3 linked regions of the Homo sapiens genome follow. The protein of the gene in region 2 interacts with the protein of the main gene of each other region in a pairwise test. Each region holds a gene or a part of one and is shown on either strand. Other genes may lie near its edges.

Region 1 (3,750 bases), on a different chromosome or scaffold from region 2:
TGGGAGGACTGCTTGAAGCTAGGAGCTTGAGACTGGCCTGGGCAAAATAGTGAGGCCCTGTTTCTACAAAAAAAAAAAAAATTAACTGGGTGTGGTGGTGTGTGCCCATAGTCTCAGCTACTCAGGAGACTGAGGTGGGAGGATCACTTGAGCACCGGAGGTCAAGGCTTCAGTGAGTCATGATCACACACTGCAGCCTGGGTGACAGAGTGAGAGCCTGTCTCAAAAAATAAATAAATAAAAAATAGATAGATAGATTGATTGATTGATATAGAGAGGATAAGTAAAAACAAAAACATGTATGTACTATAAAACCTGGGATGGGCTGGGCGTGGTGGCTTATGCCTATACTCCTAACACTTTGAGAGGCCAAGGCAGGCGAATCACTTGAGGTCAGGAGTTTGAGACCAACCTGGCCAACATAGTGTGAAACCCTGTCTCTACTAAAAATACATAAATAAATAAATAAATAAATAGCCAGGTGTGGTGGTGCATGCCTATAATCCTAGCTACTCAGGAGGCTGAGTTGGGAGGATTGCTTGAACCCAGGAGGTGGAGGTTGCAGTGAGCCGAGATCACACCACTGCACACTCCTCATAAGTGCCTGGAAGGGCAACACAGTGAGACTCCATCTCAAAAAAAAAAAAAAAAAAAAAAAAACAACCCTGGGATAGAGGCAGAGAAGAAAGGAAGTGGTGGGCAGTGTGGGTGGTCTGTCTTACCTTTCATAATGGAGAGCTGGTGCCTACTGTTTAGAATTCACAAACACAGAGTTCAAAGTGGTTGCCACTGTGGCTAGGGTAGGAGACATCTTTTTATTTCTCATTCTTCCATGTACTTCAAAAATTATCACGCCCTGTATATCAGTTAACTGTTAATGTAAGAAAATAACATGAGGTGGTGCAGTGGCAGCCGTGTGAATGCCGGTTGATCAGTCTTGCATTCAGGACTTGTGGAGAACCGCCCTGGGGGATGGTTTTGAGCAGAGCAGTTCCTCGTTCCCACAGGTGCCTCATTTTTCCCTGGTTCCATTCAGAACATCATTTACTGCCTAGAGCTAATTCCAGATCCTCCTCCCACCCGGGGCAGTTTATCAAAGGCAAAATAAAGAGGGTGGGCCGGGGACAGTGGCTCACACCTGTAATCCCAGCACCTTGGGAGGCCGAGGCAGGTGGATCACCTGAGGTCTGGAGTTCGAGACCAGCCTGGCCAACATGGTGAAACCCTGTCTCTACTAAAAATACAAAAAATTAGCTGGGCGCGGTGGTGCATGCCTGTAATCCCAGCTACTCAGGAGGCTGAGGCAGGAGAATTGCTTGAACCTGGGAGGCGGAGGTTACAGTGAGCTGTGATCCTGCTACTGCACTGCAGCCTGGGCGACAAGAGCAAAACTCCATCTCAAAAGAAACAAACAAATAAACAAATAAAGAAGGTGGGTGGGGGTGACTCCCTGAAAGTTTCTAGACGCCTCTTCTAAAGATAAAAACATAATGTGATGCCTGAAAGAGGGAAGAACTGCCCCAAAGAGTCTGGGATGTGGCTGAGGTGGCCACTTTGCCAGGAGCTGATGAGGGGGATGAAAGTAAGAACTGATTTTAATCTTCGCCTCTCGTACAACCCCTGGTGGGCACCGGATGATGCCCTGTTCCACTGATTTTAAGTTGCATTTTCCCCCCCGCATTTCCACATTCTCCAAGTGAGAACGTGTCCCGCAGTGTGAGGGTGAGCTGTCGTGATATAATTAGAGTCTCTTGGCCTTCTTGGTGGTCCATAAGATAGCGGCATGCCTTCCGATGGGGGACCCGGGAGTTGCTGAGTCGCAGCGCTTGCACAGCGATGGGCTTATTTGGTCTCTCCGGCACATGGCTCAGCCCTGCTCCGTGGCCGTGGGTGGCGTCCCCGGCTGACCCCCTGTCTTGCAGGTGTAGTCGCCGCCGCCAGCCGCCATGGGCAAACAGAACAGCAAGCTGCGGCCCGAGGTGCTGCAGGACCTGCGGGAGAACACGGAGTTCACCGACCACGAGCTGCAGGAGTGGTACAAGGGCTTCCTCAAGGACTGCCCCACCGGCCACCTGACCGTGGACGAGTTCAAGAAGATCTACGCCAACTTCTTCCCCTACGGCGACGCTTCCAAGTTCGCCGAGCACGTCTTCCGCACCTTCGACACCAACGGCGACGGCACCATCGACTTCCGGGAGTTCATCATTGCGCTGAGCGTGACCTCGCGGGGCAAGCTGGAGCAGAAGCTCAAGTGGGCCTTCAGCATGTACGACCTGGACGGCAACGGCTACATCAGCCGCAGCGAGATGCTGGAGATCGTGCAGGTACCGGCGCCCGAGGCCCCGGGTCTCACCGCGGGCCCAGGTCCCCTCCCAGCTCCCAGCCCCCAGCCCAGGGCTTTTTTTTTTTTTTTTTTTTTTAAGACAGGAATCTTGCTCTAGTGACTGGAGTGCAGTGGCACTATCTCAGCTCACTGCAACCTCTGCCTCCTGGGCTCAGGTGATTTTTCCGCTTCAGCCTCTTGAGCACCTCCATGCCCTGTTAATTTTTTTGGTATTTTTGATGGTAGAGAGAGGGTTTTGCCACATTATCCAGGCTGGTCTTGAACTCCTAGGCTCAAGCGATCTGCCCGCCTCAGCCTCCCAGAGTGCTAGAATGACAGGTGTGAGCCACCGTGCCTGGCCTCCCTGTGTTCTTTATGTTCACTCGACATTGGGTCTTTCTTGGCCAGGTTGCTACCTGGTGCACTTTGGAAAGTGAGCAGTTGTCACCTGATTGGGCAGACCCTTGCAAAGGGCAATGGTAAAAGCCAATGTTTATTGATCACTTGCTATACATCAGGGCCGGGTGGAGCACTTTGATCCGTTTTCATCTTCATAACCCAACAACGTGGGTCATTCTCTGCATTTTACAAAGTCTGAGACTCAAATAGATGAATTTCTAAAAATTATATTTTATATATATTTGGAGATGGAGTCTCACTTTGTCGCCCAGGCTGGAGTGCAGTGGCATGATCTCGGCTCACTGCAACCTCCACCTCCTGGGTTCAAGAGATTCTCCTGTCTCAGCCTCCCATGTAGCTGGGATTACAGGTATGTGCCACCGCAGCCAGCTAATTTTTGTATTTTTAGTAGAGACGAGGTTTCACCATGTTGGCCAGGCTAGTCTTAAACTCCTCACCTCAGTTGATCTGCCTTCAGCCTCCCAAAGTGCTAGGATTACAGGCATGGGCCACCGTGCCTGGCCAAGAATTGTATGATTGCTGGGCTCCTTGGCACTTGCAAGAGGTACCTGCCAAGACCTGGGGAAAGCCCTGGATTTGAGAACTCAACAGATAGCTTGTGATGTCCCCAGGAATGCGCAGTCATCAAGTAAAACTGAAGCATTAACGATCACGAGAATCAGCTCAGCACGGGAAAGACGTCACTTTAGGAGGCATCTCTTCACCTTCATGCCTATCAACAGCTCTAGCAGAAAGGCCATGTTTCAGAAGGAAACCAAGTTTTGTTCACTTGGCCAGGTGCCTAGGTATGCGAGAGAGAGTAGAGAGCAGAGCTGCCCCTCCCTGGCATTCCCCTGAGTGCCTCCCTGAGCCCAGGAGCATCCAATTCTAGAACTCATGGCCAGGCCTGTAATCCCAACACTTTGGGTGGCCGAGGCTGGAGGATCGCGTGAGCCCGGGAGTTTGAGACCAGCCTGGGCAATATAGTGAGACTCCATCTCTATAAAAAATTAAAAGAGTAGCAGGGC
Region 2 (3,750 bases):
ACAGAAAGGTTAGAATGGGGCCAAGTGATCCTAGTGCTTTGGGAGGCTGAAGTGGGAGTTCAAGACCAGCCTGGTCAACAAAGGGAGACCTTGTCTCTTCAAAAAATACAAAAAAATTAGCTGGGCATGGTGGTGTATGCCTGTACCACCAGCTATTCTGGAGGCTGAGGTGGGAGGATCACTTGAGCCCCAGAGTTTGAGGCTGATGTGAGCTATGATTGTGCCACCGCGCTCCAGCCTGGGTAACAGAGTGAGATCCTGTTACAAATAAAAACATAAAGATAAAAAGAGAAAGATTAGAATGGCTGAGCTAAGATTTGAACCCCAGTCTGTCATAATTGTGGAGAATGGAGGAGGAGAGCCAGACCCTGCCCTTAGTGAGTGTGGGGGGAGAGGAAAGGTGGGAGAGGCAGGGGAGGGGGAGCATCTGGTTTGAAAGCCACCAGCCACAAACGCTGCGTGCTCGTTGTGCATGCGGACTGTGGTGTCACCTGAATGCTGAGCCCACAGGTAGAATCGTCCGTCTCCATCAGCTGGGGCCAAGTGTGGGGAGGTTCCCCGAGGAGGTTCTGGAAGCAGGAGGTGAAGATGGGGAGGGAGAGCCCTGCCCTTTCCACCGAGGATTTGTCAGCCCTGCCCTCCACGGCTCTGCACCGAGTGGTTGCTGGAACCGGTAACAGGAAAGGCCTGGTGTGTGTGTGTGTGCGTGTGTGTGTGTGTGTGCGTGTGCGCGCGTGTGTGTGCGTGCTTGTGCGGATGTACATTTTCTTGTGCATATATAGGCATGCTTATATATGCGTCTGTGTGTTCTGCGTTCATAGGGGGCACAGGTGGTTTGGGGTATGCCTGCTTTTGTGTGTGTGTGGGTCTGGGGTGAGTGGATACACTCTACCTTGAAAATCCTGGTATATCTGGCCTTGAGTGACCTTGAATATTCAGACTTAACCCAGAAGAGGAATTGGGGAGGATGGTTCACTTGTTATACCAAAGCTAATCCACTCTACAAAGGGTTTCACGGTGGGCGGGAGTCAGGAAGAAGTAAGTGTTCCTTGAAATCTAGGCCACTCCTGTGTATTTAGGGTGCATTTAGGATGCCTTTCCAGGTACCGGAATCCAGGCAGTGGGCTGGGGGGCCTCAGTGGCAGCGTTGTTAATCGAAGCCCCTTTCCTGGGGGCTGGGAGGCCGTTGCTCCTGGCCTGGCTGGGCCTCAGAGTCCCGTGGGGAGCACATTCAGGTGCCCAGGCCGTGCCTCATACCTGGCGGGGTCACACGAGGAGGGCCGGGCCCCGGCGTCTCAGTTTTGGCAGGCATCTCAGGAAAGAGGTGTCACAGGCCTGACCCCGGAGCTGGCCTTCCTGGGGGACCCTCTGGACCAAGACTTTCAGGAAAGCAACCAGGGCAGGGCTGCTGTGTTTGTTCCCTGCCCTCTTCCCCGGAGTGGGAGCTACGGGTGGGTCACTTCCTTGACCTGTGCCTCAGTTTCCACGGTGCCAAAATGGGTCTGCTGTTGTCACCTCCTGGGGAATTTCCTTTCTGTGTGGGCGGCAGCTCAGAATGTACCAGGCATTGGCAGAGGGCCGCTGAGGAAGTGGAGGGCTTGGATTTGGGAGTGGCGGGTGGGTGGGGTTGGGAAGACACTCACCTGTGCCAAGGACACCTCCTTTAAAGCCTCACGGCGCCCCCATGAGGGAGGATCGTGTCACACATACCTTTACCAGGGCTCCAAGAGCCAGGGTCAGCCATGGCCACAAGACGGTTGGCTAGGGAGTCAGGAATGGGATTTGAACTCTGGTCTGTGGAGCCCCCAAGCTTCCAGTCCAGGCAGTGGCTGAACGCTAGGGTGTTAACAGGAATGAGAGGCGCAGTCGGCTGGGGCAGTGGTGGGAGCTCCAGGCCTCATCCTGACTCCAGATTCCATCGTTTCTTGCTTCTTTCTCTTCGGTGAACCTTTTGACCTGCAAGGGTAGCTGGGGGTTAACCTGCTACCCTCCAGGTTCAAATCCCGGTTCTCCTGTTTACTAACAGTGTAAGCCCAAGCAGATTTCTTGGCCTCTCTGTGCCTCAGTTTCTTCATCTAAAAATGGGGGAAAGAATAGGATCAGGCAGTTATCATAGGACAGAATAAATTAATATCCAGTCACACACCACACAATGATGAACCACGTACACAATGGTGCTGCCATAAAATTATTATTATTATTATTATTATTATTTTGAGATGAAGTCTCGCTCTGTCCCCCAGGCTGGAGTGCAGTGGTGCAATCTTGGCTCACTGCAACCTCTGCCTCCCGGGTTCAAGTGATTCTCCTGCCTCAGCCTCCTGAGTAGCTGGGACTACAGGCATGTGCCACCACACCCGGCTAGTTTTTGTATTTTTAGTAGAGACGGGGTTTCGCCATGTTGGCCAGGCTGGTCTCGAACTCCTGACCTCAAGTGATCTGCCACCTCGATCTCCCAAAATGCTGGGATTACAGGCGTGAGCCACTGCGCCTGGCCTCCCATAGAATTATAATACTGTATTTTTACTACACCTTTTCTTTCTTTCATGATTGTGTAGTGGCATGATCCTGGCTCACTGCAGCCTCAACCTCCCAGGACCGAGTGATCCTCTCACCTCAGCCTCCCAAGTAGCTGGGACCACAGGCATGCACCACCACACCTGGCTAGTTTTTAAATTTTTGTAGAGATGGGATCGTCTTATGTTGCCCAGGCTGGTCTTGAATTCCTGAGCTCAAGCAATTCTCTCACCTTGGCCTCCCAAAGTGCTGGGATTACAGGTGTGAGCCACCATGCTTAGCCTACTTTACGTTTTCTTTTCTTTTCTTTTCTTTGAGACAGAGTCTCGCTTTGTCGCCCAGGCTGGAGTGCAGTGGCGTGATCTCGGCTCACTGCAAGCTCCGCCTCCCGGGTTCACGCCATTCTCCTGCCTCAGCCTCCGTGTGTGTTACAGTGACCTACAGTATTTAGTACAGTCACATGTGGTCCAGATTTGTAGCCTAGGAGCAATGGGCTATGCCATATAGCCTAGGTTTGTAATAGCCTAGACTATTCAGGTTTGAGTTCACTCTATCACCTAATGGCACATTTCTCAGAGTGCATCCCCATGGCTAACTGACGCATGACTATAGTTGCGCTCTTATATTTAGTTCAGAATTCAGAACCTCTGCTTCCCTCCTGAGAGCCATCTCTGACTGTGCCAACTCAAAACAACTGCCCCCTATTTACCCACATCCCTGGACCTCCCCTCAGGGGAGTGTCTGAGTGGGCATAGGGTCTGTGCCCCCAGCTCCCTGCCCTCACCCTTGCCTTTCTCCCCACCCTCCTAGAAGTGAGTGAGTGTGGAACTGCAGGGCCCTGAACGGCCCAGGGCAGGGCATTGCTTTGCCTGACTTGCTGGGGGCCTTGGGACAGCCCCTTGCAGAGCAGGGAGACTTGGCTGGGAGATCTCCAACTTTCCTTCCCGCCCTCGCTTTTGGGGAGTCCCATGACTTGCTGTGTGACCTTCAGGGCGGGAGGAAGGGTTGAGAATCTGGGTGAGGCTCTCAAGGCTCAGGAAGGAAAGTACGATCGCTGCTTAAAAAAAAAAAATAGATTAGTTGCTGCTTGAAAAAACAAAAAAGCGTAAACCAACAAAAAAGCATAAACCAACAAAAAAAGAAAACCTGCTAGCCAAGAGCCCACCCCACCGGTGGGGGCAGCCTGGGCTCTTCGGGGCTGGGCAGGAGGGTGGGCGGAGGCAGGTGTGTCTG
Region 3 (3,750 bases), on a different chromosome or scaffold from region 2:
CTGAGACTTTAGCAAGAGATGTTGGCTGAAATACCTACTCTTGGCCTCTCTATGTGGTCTGGGTTTCCTACAATATGGTGACTGGATTCTAAGGGAAAATGTCAAGAAGAAAAAGAATAGCAAGAGAGAAAAAAATTGTATTCTTTTTATGATCTATCCTTGGAAGTCACCTAGCATTATTTCCACTGTACTCTATCAGTTGGACCAATCATAAGCCCATTTAGGTTCAAAGGGAGGGGCAATAGACTTCACCTCCTGATGGAGAGGAGCAAGATTCTAGAAGAACATATGGTAATGCAGTGGCTCATGCCTGTAATCTCAGCCCTTTGGGAAGCCAAGGTGGGAGGATCTCTTGAGGACAGGAGTTCAAGACCAGCCTGGGCAACATAGTGAGACCCCAAGTCTATAAAAATAAAAACAAAAATTTAGCTGGGCATGGTGGCATACGCCTATAGTCCTGGCTACTCAAGCAGCTGAGGTGGGATGATTGCTTGAGCCCAGGTTTGAGGTTACAGTGAGCTATGATTACACCACTGCACTTCAGCCTGGGCAACAGAGTGAGAACCCATCTCTAAAAAAAAATTTTTTTAATGTGGTAATGGATTCAATTGTAAGGCTATTTTTGAATACAATCTGCCACAACATATAACATTAATTCTGGGGAAAATACAATATATAATAGTAAGTCCTCACAACATCATTGACAACAAAACCAATTATTTTTTCTCATTAACATTACAACAAAACGATGTTGAATGAAATGACGGTATTTGAGGCTCTGCTGTATATTCCAAGTTGAAAGGCAATATAGTATAGTGAATAAAGAGCCAGGACTCTGAAGCCAAATGCCTAGAGCTCTATTGTATACTTGTGTGACACTCAGCAATTTGTTTAAGCTCTCTGTGCCTCAATTTCCTCATTTATAAAACTAGAATGTTGTTAAAAAATAGTTACTTTGAAAAGAACTTTGAAGACTATCCAGCTTCCTAAGTGTTAGCTATTATTATAATACTCTTCCAATTCTGACGGATTCTTCCTGCCTCCTCGGGGGATGGTGGTGGCAGCACTACCAGAAGTAGAAGATTAATAACAGCAGTTCACATTATTGAGTACCTAATACCTGTCAGTTTCTATGCCAAGTAAATTGACTCAAAAATCCAAGAGGGATGCCCTAATATTATTCACATAAGAAAACTCTGATTTAGGTAACTTGCTCAGAGTATCACTAGCAAGTGGTAGAAACAGGCCCCTGATCAGTTTAACTAGATAGAAGGAGCCTGAGTCCCTGGAGGACTGTGTGGAGCAGAGCCCTTCGCCCAATCCTGATTTCTGGGTGAGTGAAAAATGAACAGTGTTGGATTATGCCATTAAGATTGGGGGCTATTTATTACAGCAGTGACCCTGTCCTGACTGGGTTAGTACAGGGAAGACGGGAGAGATATTTTTGGAAATATCACTAATTTAAAGACTCCTTTCATAAAATACAATGGTTTTCATTATTTGTATGAAACAGGGTATTTGCATAAAAGAAAATACTCTCTAGGTCGGTCCCTACCAGTCTCATTTGTCTTCTGAACTAGAGGACAAATAGCCTCTGGCCAACTGGGAATAGGACTGAGCATACCGACCTGGAATCCCTGACACTGATGGGAACAGATTGCTCACAAATGAGGCCGGCTGTTCACCAGCTGCAGAATGTCTCTTCTGGGGTTTCACTCTGGTGTAAAACCTAATGGTTCCCAGGTTGTTTGTCTGTTTTGTTTTGATGTTCTGTTTTGTACTGTTTCCTTTTAGAATTCTCTTTTGGACTGCAGTGGCCAGTGTGGCTGTGGGAAAGAGAACCCCAGTTAATAGTACATATAGGTCTCTGGGCAAGTTCTCTACATAGTTAGACTGCATATTCCATGATGGAAGGGACCTGCCCTGTCTTGTACCTTATAGCAACCCTGGGGTCTGGCTCAATGCCTGACACGTAGTATGTGCTCAAAATTTGCTGAATGCATGAAAGACTGAATGTTTGAATAAAAGCTCAAGCAAACAAAAGCCAGGGTCCATAAAGGCCCTTGGGTTCTCTATGCCAGCAGCATATCTCACTTGAGGATCCCATCAGGGGAGGACCTCACATGCCTACTATAATACTGTGAATGCAGTAGTCCGTTAATAAATGTTCGCCAATTGAGTGACTGTGCTGCACATGATCCATGATAAGATGTGGGAAGGTATAGGACGGGGAAACTTTTGTGAGATGCTATTTTTGATCTCCAACGATATTGTAAATATGGTCGTCACAAACCTGATCATGGTTTGAGTTATATGAATCATATCAAAGTCTGTGGGAGTCAGCAGAGCAGATAGCCAAAGAACACAACAGTTTTCTTGACATTTACCTCTAATAGATAGGGCTTAAATTCATTAAAGCAAACAAAATCCAAAATCATCTTTTAAAAAAATTCATCCTTGCATAAAAGCAATGTGCAGCCTTTGGTCTTCCTGCAGTCACTGGGAGAGATTCAGAAAATGTGAACAATCCTCCCATGAAGACAGGCAACAGCTGGAATGTCTTTCAGGCTAGAGATTTATTTCCTACAAATCAAATATAAAACTGCATTGTGACCTGAGAATATTCTGGTTTACATTAATGTAAACTAAATTTTAAAGGGATGCCGTGTCTTTATTTAAAGGCACTTATGAAAATACATGCAAAAAACCCCCTAAAGTTCACTACTGAGATAAAAAGGGCAGACTGTTTTTAGTTTGGCTCCAGTGAATTTCAATATTTATCATATAATTTTTATATCAAAATCTTAGTGAACATTAACTTTTATGGTATCACTTCTGAAAACAATAAAAAATACTACATTTTGGAATGCTATTTCTAGTTAGATTTCCATCATGAAGCACCAGTTAAATAAATGTGGATTTTATGAAAAATAATGGCACATTCCTTTTTGAAAAGTTTCAAACACCTGGCTTGAGAAGCAAACAGTACAGCCTGGAGTCAGAGATTTTAAACTTTTTCCAAGTTTCTTTATCAAGTTGCTAGAGACTCAAAGCTCCCAAGGCAAGTGTTCTTTTCTAATCCAAAGAATAAGAAACGTTTGAGAACATCTCTTTCGTAATTCCTTTGAGAACACACGAAGACAAATTGCTAAGCTTCCATTTCAAATGCGAGGGATTTGGATTGAATTTAAACAACAGCTTGTGCAAAATGTCATAGCTCCCATTCTCTTACGCGGAGACAGTGGGTGTTGATGTCATAGAAAGGATGACTTTGGACATTCTGAATATAGGGCTGTGACGGCAGCTGACCAACTGCAAAGTTACGCTGTTGGTTTGGAGAGGAATATCAGGCACTATTTTCTGCACATTTAAAGAAACATGTTGAATGAGACAACTACTTACATAAGTCACACTAAACAATACTATTAATACCCCCTGTATTGGTCTTAAATATCCAATAAGCCAAATAAGGTTCTGCATTCAGATACTTGGGAAGTGTCTCCACTTCCAGCTTAATTTCAAACATGCCTCATCCTAGAGACCTCTGTCAGATAAACCTTTAGGGCTCTCTCTTGAGTATCTGGAATTAACATGACAATTGATCAATTCACACGTGTATGTGCTTTACATTAAGCTGGAAAGCCACATGCATTCTTTAATGCTTGCTTCAAATGCTATGAGCACATGAACTACCTTCTGTGGCCCATGGTTTTAACTCGCATAACTTGTACTAACACTATGAGTTTTCCT

What was found.
Region 1: the proteins of NBL1 (region 2) and HPCAL1 interact in binary tests that used the Homo sapiens proteins (3 or more experiments, as listed by UniProt).
Region 3: the proteins of NBL1 (region 2) and NCALD interact in binary tests that used the Homo sapiens proteins (3 or more experiments, as listed by UniProt).

What each region holds. Positions count from the first base shown.
Region 1 is NC_000002.12:10,417,812-10,421,561, forward strand, and holds part of HPCAL1 (hippocalcin-like protein 1), read left to right. Parts: exon of another isoform or gene 1-654; intron 655-1,922; 5' UTR 1,923-1,946; coding exon 1,947-2,324; intron 2,325-3,750. UniProt on the Homo sapiens protein: May be involved in the calcium-dependent regulation of rhodopsin phosphorylation.
Region 2 is NC_000001.11:19,647,161-19,650,910, forward strand, and holds part of NBL1 (neuroblastoma suppressor of tumorigenicity 1 isoform 2 precursor), read left to right. Parts: intron 1-449; exon of another isoform or gene 450-510; intron 511-3,750. UniProt on the Homo sapiens protein: Possible candidate as a tumor suppressor gene of neuroblastoma. May play an important role in preventing cells from entering the final stage (G1/S) of the transformation process.
Region 3 is NC_000008.11:101,784,227-101,787,976, forward strand, and holds part of NCALD (neurocalcin-delta), read right to left. Parts: intron 1,827-3,750; exon of another isoform or gene 1,629-1,826; intron 1-1,628. UniProt on the Homo sapiens protein: May be involved in the calcium-dependent regulation of rhodopsin phosphorylation. Binds three calcium ions.